Homo sapiens: one gene and its partners. The protein of the gene in region 1 purifies or fractionates together with the protein of each later gene. This does not show direct contact. Each region holds a gene or a part of one and is shown in the gene's direction. Other genes may lie near its edges. The genes, in order: ZMPSTE24, VSIG1, GALNT2, AKR7A3 and HK1.

Region 1 (3,521 bases):
GAATTGTTTTGTTTCTCATTTACTTCTCTCAAAAGTAAACTTTTTTGAAGGCAGGGATGATATTTCAGACCTTATGTTATCCATAGAATCAAGCATATTGCTTGGGATGTAGTAAGTAAGTGCTCAGCAAATACTTGTTGATTTGTTTGCCAGTAGTTCATAAAAACTGGATTTTTGTTTTTTCTTTTGTTTAGATCACTCAGTCCCTGGTGTTTCTGCTGTTGGCTACACTTTTCAGTGCATTGACTGGTTTGCCATGGAGTCTTTATAATACTTTTGTGATAGAAGAAAAACATGGCTTCAATCAACAGGTATAATAAAGAATACAAATGTTCTCTTTTAAATGTGAAAAACTTCTGTGCTTTTGTCCTGTACTGTTTATAATTTAAACATAATTTACTATTTCAGAGTATGAATTGAGAAAAAAGGGAACTACAGATATGGTAAAGATCATAGCTGAAAGTCTTGGGGGCCGCGGTGGCTCTGGCCAGTTGCCCTGGCACTCGGGGAGGCAAGGCTACATGTTCGAGGCCAACCTGGTCAACACTGATTTTAAAAAAAAAATACTTAAGGCCAGGCCCAGTGGCTCATGCCTGTAATCCCAGCACTTTGGGAGGCTGAGGCGGGTGGATCCCAAGGTCAGGAGATCGAGGCCATCCTGGCTAACACCGTGAAACCCGTCTCTACTGAAAATACAAAAAATTAGCCGGGCTTGGTGGTGGGCGCCTGTAGTCCCAGCTACTCGAGAGGCTGAGGCAGGAGAATGGCGTGAACCCGGGAGGCAGAGCTTGCAGTGAGCTGAGATCTCGCCACTGCACTCCAGCCTGGGTGACAGCAAGACTCCGTCTCAAAAAAAAAAAAAAAAAAAAAAAAGAAAGAAAAAAAGTCTTGACTGGGTACAGTGGCTCACGCCTGTAATCCCAACACTTTGGGAGGCTAAGGCGGGAGGATCACTTGAGTTCAGGAGTTCAAGACCAGCTTGGATAGTATAGTGAGACTTCATCTCTACAAAAAAATTCTAAAAGCCAGTTGTGGTGGCATGCACCTGAAGTCCCAGCTACTTGGGAGGCTAAAGCAGGAGGATTGCTTGAGCCCAGGAGGTTGAGGCTACGGTGAGCCATCATTGTGCCACTGTACTCCAACCTGGGCAACAGAGCCAGACCTGTCTCTTAAAAAAAAAAAAGAAATTTATGTTATAAACTCCTTTAGCACTAATATCTATTGTTTTTCAGCTACTAATCATTTGTTTGTTTGCGACAGGGTCTCGTTCTGTCACCTAGGCTGGAGTGCAGTGGCAGGATCATGGCTCACTGTAGCCACGACCTTCCAGATTCAAGCAATCCTCCCACCTCAGCCTGCCTAGTATCTGGGACTATAGATGAATTATACTACACTGGGTTAATTTTTTTATTATTATTTTTAGTAGTGACAGGGTCTCACTATGTTGCCCAGGCTGGCCTGGAACTACTGGGCTCAAGCAATCCTCCCATCTAGGCCTTCCAAAGTGCTGGAATTACAGTTGTGAGCCACTGCACTCGTCCTCAGTTAATAAGGTTTAAATGAATTTTCAGCTGTAAAATGCAAGACATTTACCCATTGTCTTAAGCTGCCTAATGTCATATAATATAGTTTCACTGCATGTTAATTTTAAAAATTGCTTTAATAATGTATCCTTTGTATTTATTTATCAGTTATTTTAAAAAGCAGAACCAGTTTCTCAGTTTCTTGTGGTAATGTTTTCTTTTTGCAGACTTTGGGGTTCTTCATGAAAGATGCAATCAAGAAATTTGTTGTGACTCAGTGTATTTTGTTGCCTGTGTCTTCACTTCTACTTTACATTATTAAAATTGGGGGTGACTATTTTTTTATTTATGCCTGGCTGTTCACATTAGTTGTGTCTCTGGTGAGTAAAATCTTTATTTCGTTTTCTTTTGCAAAAGTTCCTTGGTGAGATTACTGTAATCTTCATTGGCATGTAAACAGTTCTTAAGAAGCAGCTGAAATATAAATAGGTGCTTATATACATTTCCCCCTTGGTTTCTGCTTTTGATTGTAGACACAGGAGTATTGACTGACCATAAATTTCCTTCTCCTTATGCTAACTCTTCAGGTCATAGAAACTAGTTGTTAGTCACTTTTAATGATTCAGTTGTCAGGCAGTTTTGGGTTGTGCATTTGCGAGTTGCCACCAGAATGACTAAGTGTGATAATTTAATGACTCCTGACTGACCTCCACTGCCTAAAATCATGGTTATTTTGAAGAGAAATGAGATTTAAGAGGGACAAGAGAAAGAAAGCATATACTTAACTGGCTTTCTTCTGCTTCCCTTCCCTTGCCTTTCCCTTCCACGTTAGACACTCTCTCCCTTCTTTGCCCCATCTGCTTCCCCTTCCCCTTCTATCTTTTACCCATTCTTCTTCCTTTCCTTCTCCTGTCTTCCCTTTTCTCCCCAACTGCCACCTATTCCTGCCTCTCTTCTCCTTTCCTTTTCCCTCTCACTCTTTTCCCCCTGATTTTTCCCTCCCTCACATCTCCTATTCCTCTTCTCTTTCCATACTCTCAAGTGCTTCACAACACAAACACTACAACGCAGTCAAAATGGTCTGTTCAGGGCCAGGCACAGTGGCTTATGCCTGTAATCCTGGCACTTTGGGAAGCCAAGGTGGGAGGATTGCTTAAGCCCAAGAGTTTAAGACCAGCCTGGGTAACACAGTGAGACTCTGTCTCTACAAATAATAATTTTTAAAAAACCCAAATGAAAAAACCCAAAGTGGTCTGTTCAGTGCACCCAGAAATTATCATCTATCAGCTCTTCAGCTCCACTGATGAGGTTTATTTTATTTTAGAGATAGGGCCTCCCTGTGTTGCCCAGGCTGGAGTACAGTGGCTATTTCACAGGCATGATCATAGTGCACTACAGCTTTGAGCTCCTGGGCTCAAGCAGTCCTCCTGCCTTGGCCTCCTGAGTAGCTGGGACTACAGGTGTGTGACACCATGCCCAAGCTGAGGTTTATTTTAGTCTGAATTACATAATGCTCATTGTTTCATTTTCCATTGATGGGATCAAGATCAGAAAATGGGCGCTAGTTGGATTTACAGGTATCTATTGTATGGCAAATTAAAGTAAGATGAAAAAGAGCAGAGAAAATGCTCTAAAAATGCTTAAGGAAGTGCTATTTCAACCACATTGTACAATTATGAACTACAGGTAATTAATTTTAGCTGATAAGCCAACCAAGTAACAGCACACAATCAAGTTCTACTAATTCTTTTTTGGGAAAGACTTCAGGTCTATTGTGATTACGCTAAAAGGTAGAACTGCGTGTTATGATTGACTCATGAAGCATCAGAAATCCCCAAGATAGTTTTGAAAGGACTATACTTATTACCACCTAGAGATTTTAATCACTGTTAGTAGCATTATCCTTTAAAATAAAATTCATAAGTTTACTCTGTTATCAGACTACTCATTTCAATTTAATTCATCAGACAGATATTATGCTCTTACTATCTGGTACTA
Region 2 (3,521 bases), on another chromosome or scaffold:
AAGGGACCTCAGGAATTACCTAATCCAGTGATTTCCCAGCTTCAGTCATTCATGTACCATCTACATGATTTTTGTCATATTTGTGTATCACCAGCACTATTTGTTATTTAATGTTATTTTCTGTATTGACTTGTTTTCTTAAAATCTTAAAAAATATCTACCTTAATCTACCCTATGCAACAATATTCAGGAAGTCATAGATTTAATGTGCTAGATTTTTCTGTTTCTAATACACATTGAAATTTGTAAGTTTTCATTTATATACTACCTAAAATCAACTTAAATGCCTATACTTGGTAAATACATATCATACTTTGGAAAACATTACTCTCTTTTCTCATTCAGATGTGGAAAGTAAAGGTTGGAGAGATTAAATAACTTTGTTTCTTATCTAAAACCAGGCTGCCATGGAGGCATGACTAGAGGCCACCTCCCCTAACTATATCACAGTGAGGGGCAGAGCTGTGACTAACTCAAGCCACCTGACCCCTAGACCAGGACCCTTTCCACCACATCATGCTGCTCCCACAGTTGCCATTATGATCTAAGTATCTATGCTCTTTAATAGAAATGGGACTAGAATCCAGATCTTAAGTTTAATAAGTTATAATAATAATAAATGAGCCCTTGTGGCTTCAGATGGGTCACTTAATCTCTCTGGGTCTGAGATGCCTTATTTGTTTAAATGACAGAAGAATTCCAGTTCTGCCTTCTGCCACATGGGGAGAAAGATGGTAGCTATCATTGGCTGAGCACTTCCGAGGTCCTTTACTAGATTTCTTAGTTTCATCTTCACAACACCACTATAAAGGGATGGGACCAGATGATTTCTAAGATGCTTTTCCGCTTTGCTTCTAATAAACAAAACAAACCCAAGTTTGTCTATCCAAAAGAGTAGGTGTGTCTAAAAGGAGCATGAACATTTGAACATTTAAGGAAACCAGATAGTCTCACTGGGTAAGGTAAATTCAAATTTTAAGAAGTTTATAAAATGGTAAAAAAAAAAAAATGATGGTTTTGGTTTCCCATCAGACATTTGTGTTCTACATAATGAGTTTCTCTCAGGTGGATTCATTAAGTGAGCATCTTGATCTCCTAGCCCAAGCTTAGGTGTTGAATCCTGTCAGCTCCAGCTGCCTCCTCCTCTGTAAGATAGGCATACTAATCCCTGCCCTGATGACATCACAGAGCTGCTCTGAGGGCCAAATGCGCAGCTGTGAGCAAACTAAAGTGCCCCACTGAGTTGAGAAACCTTGGCCACAGGGACCTGTTCCTGGTGGGGGGAAGATGCTGCTTCTTTATCAAAGGTAATGTGTTTAGAAGAAGCTTTCAGGTAGCTTATCCTAGTCCTGGACTCTCTCCAGTTCTCACTTCTGTTATTTTTCTGTCTAGATTTACTTTTCTCAAGGTGGACAAGCTGTAGCCATCGGGCAATTTAAAGATCGAATTACAGGGTCCAACGATCCAGGTAATGCATCTATCACTATCTCGCATATGCAGCCAGCAGACAGTGGAATTTACATCTGCGATGTTAACAACCCCCCAGACTTTCTCGGCCAAAACCAAGGCATCCTCAACGTCAGTGTGTTAGGTATGAGCACTTTTTTCTGCTTTTTCTTTTCTTGGAAAAAGTTAGGACACTGAATGAGCCAGGACAGTGAGTTATGATGCCAATTAAGTCTCTGTAGGTAAATATACTCCCTAATATTTTCATTATCAGGGAAATAGAGACAAGCCACCAGCCCAACCAAAACAGTAACACTGAGAAATCACTCATAAAACATGCAGAACAATTGTGCAAACGGGCTGCCAAAATGACAGCAGTAGATGACCCAACCTCCAGTGATCCCTATCTCTGAGGGATGGAATGAGAACAGATGAGACAATCCACTGTCCCACAAAATGATCACTAGCAACTCTTTTAGAGGAAACCTCCATTTACAGCCAGATCTACCTGGGGGAGACTACTGTCAACTTATTATTCCTTTTAAGCTCGACACAATTCCCACCATTAAATTATTCTTTTAAATAAAGACAGGAGAGTCCCTTTTTTAAAATGCTAATGTTATTTGGAAAAAGGACTGAAATTAATCTAGTGTTGAGAATCAACATATTTACATACAAATATTCATTATATGATATTGGGCAAGCCGTATCTGCTCTTAAAATGAATTTGGAATCTCATTTGTTCAGTATTTATTGAGTTACAGTGATGGAGGTGTTGTTTTTGCCCTTGGGAAGCTCCCAATTTTGGCCATTTCTAGAAGTCCTTACAATCTCTGTCTGAGAGGACAATGTGGGCTAAACTTCCATCTGCAGGCTGGTATTGGGAAGTATCGAAGCAAGGGATGAAAGGGCTGCCAATCCTCAACTCTTACAGACAGACCAGTTGAGATGAGCATTTTCCCACTTCTAGGTAGCCCCAAATGAAGCTGATCTAGTCATTGCTGCTCTCAAGCTGTGTGCACACATCACAAGAAAGGAGGAACTACATCAAATCAGTGACTTAATAGTTGAGTAGCTTGGAAAAGCAGCAATTGGTAACAAGGTGCATACCCAAGAGAACTGTTTACAGTTGTCCTGGCTTGCCACTCAGGTAATGCCACAAAGGAACCAGCTGACATTTACTGTGAGGTTTGCCACTGCATCTACCCACCTGGGAAAGAGGGAAAGGTACCTAAGAGCTATTTTTTAAGAGTGGGTTAGCTTAATCAATCATATTTTTATCTTACTGAGTTCTGTGCCAGGAATTGGGGTACAGGAACAGACAAGAGAAGTATTACTCAAGCAAATTCCTGGGAGAGTTTCTGTTTCAGTTTGGAAGACTAGTGTATTAGTCTATTCTTGCATTGCTGTAAAGAAATACCTGAGACTGGGTAATTTATAAGTAAAAGAGGTTTAATTGTCTCACGGTTCTGCAGGCTGTACAGGAAGCATAGCAGCTTCTTGGGAAGCCTCAGGAAACTACAATCATGGCAGAAAGCAAAGGGGAGGCAAGATGTCTCACATGGCTGGAACAGGAGGAAGGGGAGGGGAAGATGCCACACACTTTTAAACAACCAGGTCTTATGAGCACTCATTCACTATCACAAGATCAGCACCGAGGGGGAAATCCGCCCCCATGATCCAGTCACCTCTCACCAGGCCCTATCGCCAAAATTAGTGATTACAATTTGACATGAGGTTTGGGTGGGGACACAGATCCAAACCATATCAACTAGTTAGTTATATACATGGGAACTAAGTGATGTGCTATAAATGCCAAAGCATCAAACTGGCACTCAGAAGACCTGAGTTTTAGATCTTACTCTGTACTCAGTGACCTTATACAAGTCAGTCCACCTTTCTCTGACCATTGTGAGATGGGGTTATAATTTCTGCCCTGTCTTCTTTACAGGTTTGTTATGAACAGTTTTGTTATTTTACCTATAAAATGAAATACTGGAGATCAAAGGGGTTTTTAAATGTTCAAAAACTGGAGGGATTAGCTAATGATTTTCTGTTGCTTCCTGGTTCTGGGA
Region 3 (3,521 bases), about 190 Mb from region 1:
AGGCAGATCACCTGAGGTCAGAAGTTCAAGAATAGCCTGACCAACATGGAGAAATCCCATCTCTACTAAAAATACAAAAATTAGCTGGGCGTGGTGGTGCATATCTGTAATCCCAGCTGCTTGGGAGGCTGAGGCAGTAGAATCACTTGAACCCGCGAGGCGGCGGTTGTGGTGAGCCAAGATCACGCCATTGCACTCCAGCCTGGGCAACAAGAGTGAAACTCCGTCTCAAAAAAAAAACAAAACAAAAAAACAAAAAAGATAGAATTACAGATGAGGCAAACGTAGAATCTGGAAATCTCTGGTTGATTTGGTTAACCTTCTGCTGTGATAATATTGATACTTACCACATCTCTCTCACACACACACACTCCCACATAGAAATATATTCCTAATTTTGATGTATGAGCATTTTAGCAGTGACTCCATTCCTGAAGTTTACTGCAGCTCACAAATCACTAATGGTATTTGGGCAAACAGAAAAGGACCCTTGGGACACAGCAACACAGTTTTTGCCTTTAGCTGGGTGAACTGATGGCTACCTGTCCCATAACCATGGGTGTCTCCACTCCTAGAGTGACTCCTGCTACGCACCCACTCCTGACCTCCCTCCCTGCCTCCCAGCAGGCCACAGCACATCTGTGGATGGCCAAGAGCAAGACCTTCTGGGTCTGGGTGGGGAGGCTGGGTTCTTGAGGGCCTAGGGTAGTAGGTAGTAAGGGCCAGTTGGGTTTGCCCTGTGCCTGCCTAATACTAATGCCTTCTGTGGTTGGGCAGGTTTTTTGTTTTGCTGGGATTTTGATAACTACTCCTCTCTTTGTATTTTAGGACAGGACTCGGGTTGTGTCACCCATCATCGATGTCATTAATATGGACAACTTTCAGTATGTGGGGGCATCTGCTGACTTGAAGGGCGGTAGGTGTCTGTCATGGTGCCCCTGCCTAGCTCGTCCCGTCTACACCAGCATCTGATCACCACTCCCTCTCATTGTCAGGAGTGACAGTGACAACAGTGTTCACGCCGTAGTGTGTGTTCTGAGTAAAAACCACCTGTGTGCTTAACGAGTAGGACTTCATAAAGAGAAAAAAAAATAGGCTTGCTCCCTTAAAGAGCTTCCTGGGTTTCCCTTTCTCCTCTTCCTTGACCTTCTGTCACTTTTGCGAGCCATGTGGTTCCATGAACAGATATGGCGTCCTTTATGACCAGAGATGATGAAGCCCTCCTTGCAGGAATCTGGGGTGAGAAGCTTCACGGAGCTGAGGCTTTGTGGGATTCAAGGGGCTGGAGCCTGTCTTTGCCTTCTCTGCTCACCCTGGCTATTTCTCTGACAGCCTGGTCTCTTTCTGGTTGCTCAGATGGAGACCTGTGTCATCCTCAACCCCCTCGCCCTCACCAAGCCCACGTGTGACCCTGTTCTGCTGATACAGCCCCTTGCATGTATCATGGTTTCTTGTACCCCTCTTTCCCAGCCCAACACCTGTGCCTACATCACCCTGGTCCCCTTCCGTTGGAATGACCACACCAGTTTCCTGTATGTCCTCACCGCACCCACCCTGGAGCCCCAAGAGCACTTTGTCTGTTTACCCTCTTAAAAATTATCAAAGACCTCAAAGAGCTTTCATCTGTGTGAAGATGAACTATTCTAGATAGACACTGGGCAGAGGGTTAACTGATGGTCTAACATCAAAAAAGAAGACAGTAAAACTATAAAATAGGGCCTTGACCAGGTGCAGTGGCTCACGCTTATAATCCCAGCACTTTGGGGAGGCTAAGGTGGGAGGATTGCTTGAGCCCAGGAGTTCAAGACCAGCCTGGGCAACATAACAAGACTCTTGTCTCTATTAAAAAAAAAAAAAAAAATTAGCTGCGTGTGATGGCATGCCAGCTACTCGGGGCTAAGGTGGGAGGATCACTTGAGCCTGGGAGGTCAAGGCTGCAGTGAGCCACGATCAACCCTGGGAGACAGAGTGAGACCCTGCTTATTCATACACACACACATATGTGTGCAAGCAAGCCTTAACCCCAGAAAACAGAATACTTGGACTTTTTAGGGAGACTCAGCCACGGTCCTAGACATTGTGGGCTTTGGCCCCACCTGCCTCTTGCAGGCCCCGTCATCATGGGCAGGCCATTTTGCCTCTGCTTCTCAGCTTCCCCCTCTGGGAAATGGGATGATAATTGTGCTGGCCACACAGGGCATAATGGAATTAGACATCAGCGGGAGGGCGGGCATGCTTGGAGGACTGTACCTAGGGTGGGAAACATAACATTCAGGAACGATTCCCAGCAAATGGTGAGAAGTAAAATGTTTGGGGACATTAAAGAGGAGGGATCCTTAGATAGCTAGAAAGCCTGGCTTTCAGAATGTTGTATTTCCCCAAGTATTCGAAGAGCTGAGATCTACCAGGCTCTATTTCTCCCAAAGCAGCTGCGTATGTCAGAGCAGGGGCAAGAACAGCCAGGTGTTCCGTGTGGGGGTGCAGGTCTTCTGGGTCAGAGGAACGGGGCCACGTTCACCCTAAGAGCATTTTATGAAATTCCTTTAGAAAAAAAATCAAGGATGCCATTCTTAACAGATCTTTAATCTGCTATAGCCTCTCTCTTTGGACCAAATTAATAAAATAAATAATAAGATAATAGTAAACATCAAAAAAACAAAGGAAAGGTTATGTCAGCTAATCCTTAACCTTCTCTGTTAGTGAAACAGCCAGGACATTGTTTTTCTGGTTTTCCTTCGTGGCCTTTGAGGCACCATGATAAGAGCCAGCTCAGGGGCCCGCAGGGGTCTCCTCTCTGTGCATTTCTGTCCCCACTGCCTGGGCCCCTGTCCATTTCCCTCTCTCTTTGCCTGAGGCCACTCTATCCTGCAGTGAGGGAGCTGGGAGGCCTCTTTGTCCAGAGCCATAAATTCTTGGCCAGCCCAGGACACTCAGAAACCCTCACCCGCCATCCTTCAGTCACTGGGGCTGTCAGGGCGGACAGACTATGAATTCAAAGCATGCAGACAAATCCAAACTTAGGCATTGCAAAAGCCCTGTTGACAAAAAGCCTGATGGCAGAGAGCTTAAGAGGATTGAAAGATGCATGCCCTAGAGTCATTAGGTTTTGCTGTCAGACCCTTGGAATTGGAAATGCAGCACCATGAGCCATGTGTTTGCCAAGAAGTGGCCTCCTGATGCACCAGGACAGCTTCCGCAGGTGGAGCCTGCTGGCCTCCAAGAGGCACTATGTGTGTGACCCTGGGAGCAAGAGCGAGACCTGAGGCCCTGCAGATGCCCACAACCAAGTCCGGGTACAGGGTCTAGGCTCTTCTATCCTCAGGGGTCTGTGGATTCCAAAAATGAAATGCAACAGGTGCCAAATATATCTGAAATTGAAGCTTATTTGCCCAGCTTGGCAACTTCCGCTGGCTCATTTTCCCTTAAAGTTTTCATATTCCCAGCATGTTCCCACTCCATTCTTGCTGCAAATACAGTCTGAAGTTTGCTGGCCCAGGGAACTGACAAAGCCTCGTTCCCTC
Region 4 (4,126 bases), about 21 Mb from region 1:
CTGTTTTGAGACAGGGTCTCAATCTGCAGCTTCGACCTCCCAGGCGTAGATGATTCTCCCACCTCTGCCTCCCAAGTAACTGGGACCACAGGTGCATGCTACCACAATTTGATAATTTTTAAAATTTTGTTGTAGCGATAAGATCTCCCTGTGTTGCCCAGGCTAGTCTCAAACTCCTGGACTTAAGCAATCCTCCCTTCTCAGGCTCCCAAAGTGCTAACATTACAGGTGTGGGCTAGTATGTCACCCACTGTGTGGGCCAGTATTCTTTGTTTTGCAATCTACTTTGTCTGATATTCACTTAGCCATTCCAACTTCTTAAAATTTAGTTTTGTCAGTGTATGTCTTTTCCCATCTTTTTGCTCTTAAACTATCTCTGCTTTTATATTTGAATAGCTTTCTGGTATTTACCATATAGTTTGGTTTTGCTTTTTTATCCATTCTAACAATCACTGCCTTTTACTTGTGAGCATTTACATCATTTATATTTATGTAATTATTGATATGATTGGGTTTAAATCAATTTTGCTATTGGTTTTTCATTTGTTCCATCTGTCTATTGGTCTTTTTTTTTCTTTTGTATTTGGAGACAGATTTGCCCTCTGTCACCCAGGGTGGAGTGCAGTAGAGCTATCACAGCTCACTGCCGCTGGGCACTGGTCCATTTTTCTATCTTTTTTTTTTTCTTTTGAGACAGGGCCTCCCTATGTTGCCCAGGCTGGGTTCAAACTCCTGGGCTCAAGTGATCCTCCTGCCTTGATCTCTCAAAGTGTTGGCATTACAGGCGTTAAGTCACCAGAGCCAGTCAGTTTTTTTTCACTTAGGTACAGAATTCAATGCCAACAGTTCTTTTCTTTCAACACTTTAACCATGTCACTCCATGGGGACGCTGTCTTGAGCCTTTGGTAAGCCTCATTCTCCAGGACCACACGGCAGGCGCGACAGCCCTAGGTCCACCCCACCCCGTAAGCGCTCCCTCCGGGAGGAGACAGAAACCCAGGACAGCTCCGGGGCAAGGCCGAGGAAGGAGGGACGACGGGGCAGGGAGGCCCGAAGAGTCCCCGCCTTTTGGGATAGTCGCCACCCTTGGACCCCCTCACCCTTGGGGACGTTGAGGAGTGTTAAAATCTCCAAGACGCGAGTCACCGGTACGAAGCCACAGCCATTTCGCTGCTTGCTCGGTGCAAGTGCAGAAGGTCCTAGTAGCCGAGCGTGGAGTCGAGCTCGTGGGCGGCGTCGGGCACCTTCGGCCGCGCCCTCAGCTGCACCCGCCGGTGGGCGGGGCCCGAGCCCGTCTCTAAAGCCACGAGGCCGCCCGCTCCGAGCCTGGTGCTTCCGACCGCTGCGCGCGGCTCCTGGGCTGTCACAGTCTCCCGTTGCCGCCGTCATGTCCCGGCAGCTGTCGCGGGCCCGGCCAGCCACGGTGCTGGGCGCCATGGAGATGGGGCGCCGCATGGACGCGCCCACCAGCGCCGCAGTCACGCGCGCCTTCCTGGAGCGCGGCCACACCGAGATAGACACGGCCTTCGTGTACAGCGAGGGCCAGTCCGAGACCATCCTTGGCGGCCTGGGGCTCCGGCTGGGCGGCAGCGACTGCAGAGGTAACAGTGGCCCCTGATCCTCCCCCTGCACGGTGCAGAGCTGAGCCTGTCCACAGCCGTGTACCGCCCCGCTCTCCCTGGCCCCGGGGCAGCACCCAAAGTTTTGTCCCCCCCACCGCCCCCACCCCTGTTCACCTCGCAGCCTTGGGAACACCAGGCTCCTTAGGCACGTCTAGCTCCGGACAACTTTTCTCTCGTCTTCTCTTCTGTTCGTCTCTCTTCTCTTCCGGGAGGTAGCCAGCACCCTCACTGACGCCTGGATGACTTGGTCTTGCCTGGAATGACTTGGCTAGCCCCTCTCTGGAGCACAAAAAACACTGGGATCTGGCATTGTGCAGCTCCTGTCCCCACCTGTGCCCTCCAGGTGCCCTTGACGGGCCTGATCTGCAGAAATTCTGTTCTTACCGCCTGGCACTCCCTGGCACAGTCCAAAATCAGAGTTTGGACCCAGCACACTATCTGCTTCCTCCTTTGCACATGCCAGCCTGCTCGGGGCCCCGGACTTTGCTCTGAGTACCTTGTGGTACTCACAAGGGCACCTCACAAGGGTGGCAGTGCCCGGAAGCCTTGGCAGCTCCCTCAGGGGGATGAGGGATTGGGGTGGTACAGAGTCTCACTGCCCTCTCTGTGGGAGGCTCTGTCGGAGGCTATTGGAGAGAAATGGACACTAACCCACTCCAGGAAGCTCCAGTTCTAGAGATGGCTGGGGAGCCCAGAGTGACCCCTTCCTGGGAGGGACCCCGTGAAGAAAGAATGGATAGGAGTTTGCCAGGAAGAGTACAAGGGGCAAGGGCGTCAGGGCAGTGGGCATGGGTGTGGAAAGGCAAATGTGTTTTGGCAATGCCGCGGGTGCTGGAGGAGGCAGGTGTGGCCGGAGGGGAGGATGTGTGTATAGGGGCAGGAGGAGCCGCCCTCAGTCTGATGCCATTTGCAGTGCTTAGGCCGATGCCTGGCAGGCACATAGTGAGGGCTGGGAAATGTTAGCTGTTTGTTTGTTCTTAGTATTAGCACCATTTGCCTCCTTCCACTGAGTGTCTGAGTGGAGTCTTATTTCTCCTCTGATTCACCACATGGTAGATCCAGAACGAACCTGGCCTGTGCGTGCATCCCAGTGCCACGCTCTTTCTAGATCACCCGGCTGCCACTCAGTGAGAGCTCTAACCATATTTCTGATTTTTTTTTTTTTTTTGAGACAGGGTCTTGCTTTTTTGCCCAGGCTGGAGTGGAGTGGTGCGATAGGGCTCATTGCAGCTTTGACCTCTCAGGGCTCAAGCCATCCTCCCACCTCAGTCTCCTGAGTAGCTGGGACTACTACAGTAGCACCACACCCGGCTAATTTTTTGTATTATTCATTGAAACTGGAGTCTCACTTTGTTGCCCAGGCTGGTCTTAAACCCCTGAGCTCAAGTGATCCTCCTGCTCTGGCCTCCCAAAGTGCTGAGATTACAGGTGTGAGCCACCACAGATCTGTACCCTCTGCCTGGCCCTTATTTCTGATTTTTTTTTCTTTCCTTTTTTAATCCTTCTTTGTCTTCTGTCTGAGTCCAAGGTTGGCTGGCGAAAGTCCTCAGATCTGATCTGAAGTTAAATTCAATTGAGAAGCAGAGGGGTGGTGGTGGAATGGAAAAATTCCATATGAATAGTTCCTCAAACCTGCTCTTTGCTAGGCCTCAAGGGCTCCAGTGACTGCCCTCCTGCCAGCCTAGGTGACTTTCTAAGTGTGAAAAGTGGGAAGAGGACTCTCCACTCACCTGTTAGTCCAGTTCACTAGGAACTAAGATTCTTTTTTTTTGTTGTTTGTTTTGTTTGTTTGTTTGTTTTTTGAGAAGTCTCACTCTGTGAGACATTGTGCTGTGGCACAATCTCGGCTCACTGCAACCTCCGCCTCCCGGGTTCAAGCAATTCTCCTGCCTCAGACTCCGGACTAGCTGGGGACTACAGGCGGGCTCCACTATGCCCAGCTAATTTTTGTGTTTTTATTAGAGATGGGGTTTCACCATGTTGGTCCAGCTGGTCTTGAACTCCTGACCTTCTGATTTGCCTGCCTCAGTCTCCCAAAGTGCTGGGATTACAGGCATGAGCCACGGCGCCTGGCCCTGAATTTCATTTCTCTTTCCTCTCAGTGAAAATTGATACCAAGGCCATTCCACTGTTTGGGAACTCCCTGAAGCCTGACAGTCTCCGGTTCCAGCTGGAGACGTCACTGAAGCGGCTGCAGTGTCCCCGAGTGGACCTCTTCTACCTGCATATGCCAGACCACAGCACCCCGGTGGAAGAGACACTGCGTGCCTGCCACCAGCTGCACCAGGAGGTGAGGGGACCCCTGAGCTCTGGGAGGTGGTCCACTGCTGCTCTCCTTATCCTGATCCTAATGGTGAGAGCAGAGGCACCAGGGCTGTTCCAGGGTGGAGCAGGGAACAGCCCAACTCCCAGGGGCCCCACCCTGGCCTCCCTTTCCTGGTCTGGGCTGCACTATGTTCTGACTGGAGCCTCACCTGAGCAGGGCAAGTTCGTGGAGCTTGGCC
Region 5 (3,521 bases), on another chromosome or scaffold:
CAGGTGTGAGCCACCACACCCGGCCATGTATTTTCTTATTCTTTTTTTTTGAGATGGAGTTCTGCTCTGTTGCCCAGGCTGGAATGCAGTGATGTGATCTCGGCTCATTGCAACCTCTGTCTCCTGGGTTCAAGCGATTCTCCTGCCTCAGCCTCCTGAGTAGCTGGGATTACAGGCACCAGCCAATGCTCCTGGCCTGCATTTTTTTTTTTTTTTTTGAGATGGGGTCTCACTCTGTATCCTGGGTTGGAGTGCAGTGGTGTGATCTCAGCTCACTGAAACCTCCATCTCGCGGGTTCAAGTGATACTTCTGCCTCAGTGCCCCCCCCTGCCCCCCAGTAGCTGGGATTACAGTCGCCTGCCACCATGCCCGGCTAATTTTTGTATTTTAAATAGAGACTGGGTTTCACCATGTTGGCCAGGCTGGTTTCAAACTCCTGACCGCAAGTGATCTGCCCGCCTTGGCCTCCCGAAATGCTGGGATTACGGGTGCCAGCTACTGCCTCTGGACTGCATTTTTTTTTTTTGAGACAGAGTCTTACTCTGTCGCCTGGGTTGTAGTACAGTAGCACGATCTCACCTCCCTGCAACCTCTGCCTGCCAGGTTCAAGCGATTCTTCTGCCTCAGCCTCCCTAGTAGCTGGGATTACAGGTGCCTGCCACTACACCCAGCTAATTTTTTGTATTTTTTGTAGAGACGGGGTTTCACCGTGTTGGCCAGGCTGGTCTTGAATTCCTGACCTCGTGATTCACCCGCCTCGGCCTCCCAAAGTGTTGGGATTACAGACGTGAGCCACCGCGCCTGGCCGCTTTTTTTTTTTTTAATGGCTTTTTGTCTCTGGGCATCCTGGAACACTTCGTGAGTGTCATGTCGGGTATGAATTATATATATATGTAATTGAGATTACACTATAAATGTTTCTGCACACAACTATACTAACATATGTGTAGGTGTGTGTATGCTTTCATATGCTCTTTCAAAAGCCTCAGCGAGGTTGTCAGTACAGGAAGTATTATTCCCGGGCTTCCCAGCACGGCTCCCTCCCCAGGGCATCCTGCTGCCTGCCTTGTGTGTTGCAGACAGAAGGCAAGCAATTTATTCCCCATTTAGAAACAGAGACTGAAGGCCCATCCAGAGGAGATAAAACATTTTTCTAAGGTCGAAAGAAAATCAGGAATAGGATTCAGAGGGCTCTTCTTGCTTCCTCTGTTTCCTTCTTTTAGGAGAAAAACCTGTCCTTGTTGATTTTAATGTTTTACCTTGGAACCTGTATTTTAATACTGTCCCCTCACAAATCAATACATTTGAGTTAATTTTTTATTATGAAATATTTGAGGCACATAAAAGAAGATTGAGGTTCACATAAACACCTCTGAGTCTGCTACTCAGCTTGAGAAGTTATAGACACAATTACAATTACATTACAGACACAGTTGAAGCCCTTTCTATGCCATCTCTGAGATAGTTTGCTGCTTCTCCCTTCGGAGGTGACCTCTGTCCTGAATTTGGTGTTTATCTTTTCATGCATGTTTTTACGCTTTTATTACATATGCATATGTCTATAAACAGTATATGGTATTGCTTTATAGATATATGGTTTTGATCTTTTGTAAATGGTGCTATACTGACTATGTGTTTAAGCAATATATGGTATTGCTTTGTGTGGTTTTAAACTTTTTTTTTTTTTTTTTTTTTTGAGATGGAATCTCATTTTGTTGCCCAGGCTGGAGTGCAGTGGCACGGTCTCAGCTCACAGCAACCTCTGCCTCCTGGGTTCAAGCAATCCTCCTGCCTCAGCCTCCTGAGTAGCTGAGATCATACCTGGCTAATTTTTTTGTATTTTTAGTAGAGACGGGGTTTCACCATGTTGGTCAGGCTGGTCTCAAAATCCTGACCTCAAGTGATCCACCTGCCTAGGCCTCTTTCCAAAGTTCTGGGATTATAGGCCTGAGCCCCCACACTCAGCCAGTTTTAAACTCTTATAAATGGTGCTATACTGTATGTATCCTTCCGCCATTTACTTTCTTTTAGCTCAACATTGTATTTTTGAGATTTTAAAAATGTTGATCTACGTAACTGTTTCATTAAACTGCTCTGGTTTCTTACAGAGTATAAAAGCTCCCTAGTTAATTCATCTATTCTGCTTTTGATAGGCATTTGTGTTTCTAATGTTTCAAGTGACAAACAATGCCTTGGTGAACTTTCTCTAGAACAACTCATTCAGCGCATGCACAAGTTTCTCTAGGCTCTAAGCTGTGTACCTAGGGCTGAGATCACCAGGCGGAGAGATGTGTGCGTTTTCCCATATACGAGATTCTGCCAAGTTGCCATCCGTGGTCATGCCAGTTCACACTCCCATCGGAAGTATGTGCAGGTTGCCTTTGTTCCACACCAACCCTTGTTATGGTCAAACCTTTGCAAATTTGTAATAGATGAGTTTTAGTCTGTTTCCTTCCTCAGTTGTTTCCATTCACATCACAGTATTCGAGCTGTGTTTAAAATTAGCCCATTTCCTGAGTTACCTTATCAGAGTCCTTGCTTCAGAGTCCCACGGACTGAAGTTGACAGCTCCATGGACTGCTGCTGCTGAGATATCTGCACTGGGGAGGGATAGTTGATGCAGGGAAAGGCTTAGGATGGCTCTCCATGGCCCCTGGTGCTGTGGGCTGACTCCGTTAAGCTTTTCTGGGAGTTGAAACACACATTTGTGAGCTTTCACTTGCACACACTTTCTCTCTTCCCGGGTGGATCCGACCCGGGTAGGGCAGGCTTATCTGTTGCGTAAATGTGCCCAGCTCTGCTCAGAGAAAACTCAAGCCAGCAGCCTCTCAGACCGTCTTCCGTAAAAGGAGAGGGTGGCTGTACCCACGTGGCAGGGAAAACTGAACCGTGAAGTCGGCGGCTCAGCCCTTTGCACACAGAAGCTGAGCTGTCCCTGTGCGAGGCAGAAAATGTCGGCTCATGTTCATCTTGAGTCTATGCCTGATTACAGGCTCCAGACTCGGAGACCTCGAGGGTGCCTTACAGGGAAGGGGGCATTCAGTGCCTACTAGGCGCCCGGCTTTTCTTTTTCTTAGCAGGGGTCTTATTTAATCATTTCTAGTACTCATATGAACCAAAGCCAACATTCATTGTTGTATTCATTGCCATGTACTGTGCTAAAGGCATCGTGAGCCTTTGCTTAGTTCATCCCCACAACGCCCTTGTGAGGTGGGTGTGATTTCAGACGGTGAGGCCCAGATAGTGAACGATAGAGCCAGCATTCAGCCTCATCAAGGCTGATGGCAGAGCTCCTGCTTTTATTATTTTCTCAATTGAGTTATAATTCACCTACCATGAAACGCATCATTGTACAGTGTACAATTCAGTGGTTTCTAATAGATTTACAAGGTTGTCCGAGCACCATCACCATCTAATTCCAGAATATTTTCATCACCCTCCGAAAAAAACTACCCGTTAGCAGTCACTTCCCATTTCTTCCTCCACCTAGCTTCTGGCAACCACTATCTACCTTTTTTTT

The links.
Region 2: the proteins of ZMPSTE24 (region 1) and VSIG1 purify together in Homo sapiens (co-immunoprecipitation; one large-scale study listed by IntAct). This does not show direct contact.
Region 3: the proteins of ZMPSTE24 (region 1) and GALNT2 fractionate together in Homo sapiens (co-fractionation; one large-scale study listed by BioGRID). This does not show direct contact.
Region 4: the proteins of ZMPSTE24 (region 1) and AKR7A3 purify together in Homo sapiens (co-immunoprecipitation; one large-scale study listed by IntAct). This does not show direct contact.
Region 5: the proteins of ZMPSTE24 (region 1) and HK1 fractionate together in Homo sapiens (co-fractionation; one large-scale study listed by BioGRID). This does not show direct contact.

Annotation. Positions count from the first base shown.
Region 1 is NC_000001.11:40,268,225-40,271,745, forward strand, and holds part of ZMPSTE24 (CAAX prenyl protease 1 homolog), read left to right. Parts: intron 1-194; coding exon 195-311; intron 312-1,750; coding exon 1,751-1,903; intron 1,904-3,521. UniProt on the Homo sapiens protein: Transmembrane metalloprotease whose catalytic activity is critical for processing lamin A/LMNA on the inner nuclear membrane and clearing clogged translocons on the endoplasmic reticulum.
Region 2 is NC_000023.11:108,065,544-108,069,064, forward strand, and holds part of VSIG1 (V-set and immunoglobulin domain-containing protein 1 isoform 2 precursor), read left to right. Parts: intron 1-1,392; coding exon 1,393-1,591; intron 1,592-3,521.
Region 3 is NC_000001.11:230,245,235-230,248,755, forward strand, and holds part of GALNT2 (polypeptide N-acetylgalactosaminyltransferase 2 precursor), read left to right. Parts: intron 1-828; coding exon 829-916; intron 917-3,521. UniProt on the Homo sapiens protein: Catalyzes the initial reaction in O-linked oligosaccharide biosynthesis, the transfer of an N-acetyl-D-galactosamine residue to a serine or threonine residue on the protein receptor.
Region 4 is NC_000001.11:19,285,971-19,290,096, reverse strand, and holds the start of AKR7A3 (aldo-keto reductase family 7 member A3), read left to right. Parts: upstream 1-1,326; 5' UTR 1,327-1,387; coding exon 1,388-1,601; intron 1,602-1,736; exon of another isoform or gene 1,737-2,037; intron 2,038-3,724; coding exon 3,725-3,912; intron 3,913-4,104; coding exon 4,105-4,126. UniProt on the Homo sapiens protein: Catalyzes the NADPH-dependent reduction of various carbonyl-containing compounds, including aldehydes, ketones, and toxic products from cellular metabolism or environmental exposure.
Region 5 is NC_000010.11:69,325,326-69,328,846, forward strand, and holds part of HK1 (hexokinase-1), read left to right. Parts: intron 1-3,521. UniProt on the Homo sapiens protein: Catalyzes the phosphorylation of various hexoses, such as D-glucose, D-glucosamine, D-fructose, D-mannose and 2-deoxy-D-glucose, to hexose 6-phosphate (D-glucose 6-phosphate, D-glucosamine 6-phosphate, D-fructose 6-phosphate, D-mannose 6-phosphate and 2-deoxy-D-glucose 6-phosphate, respectively).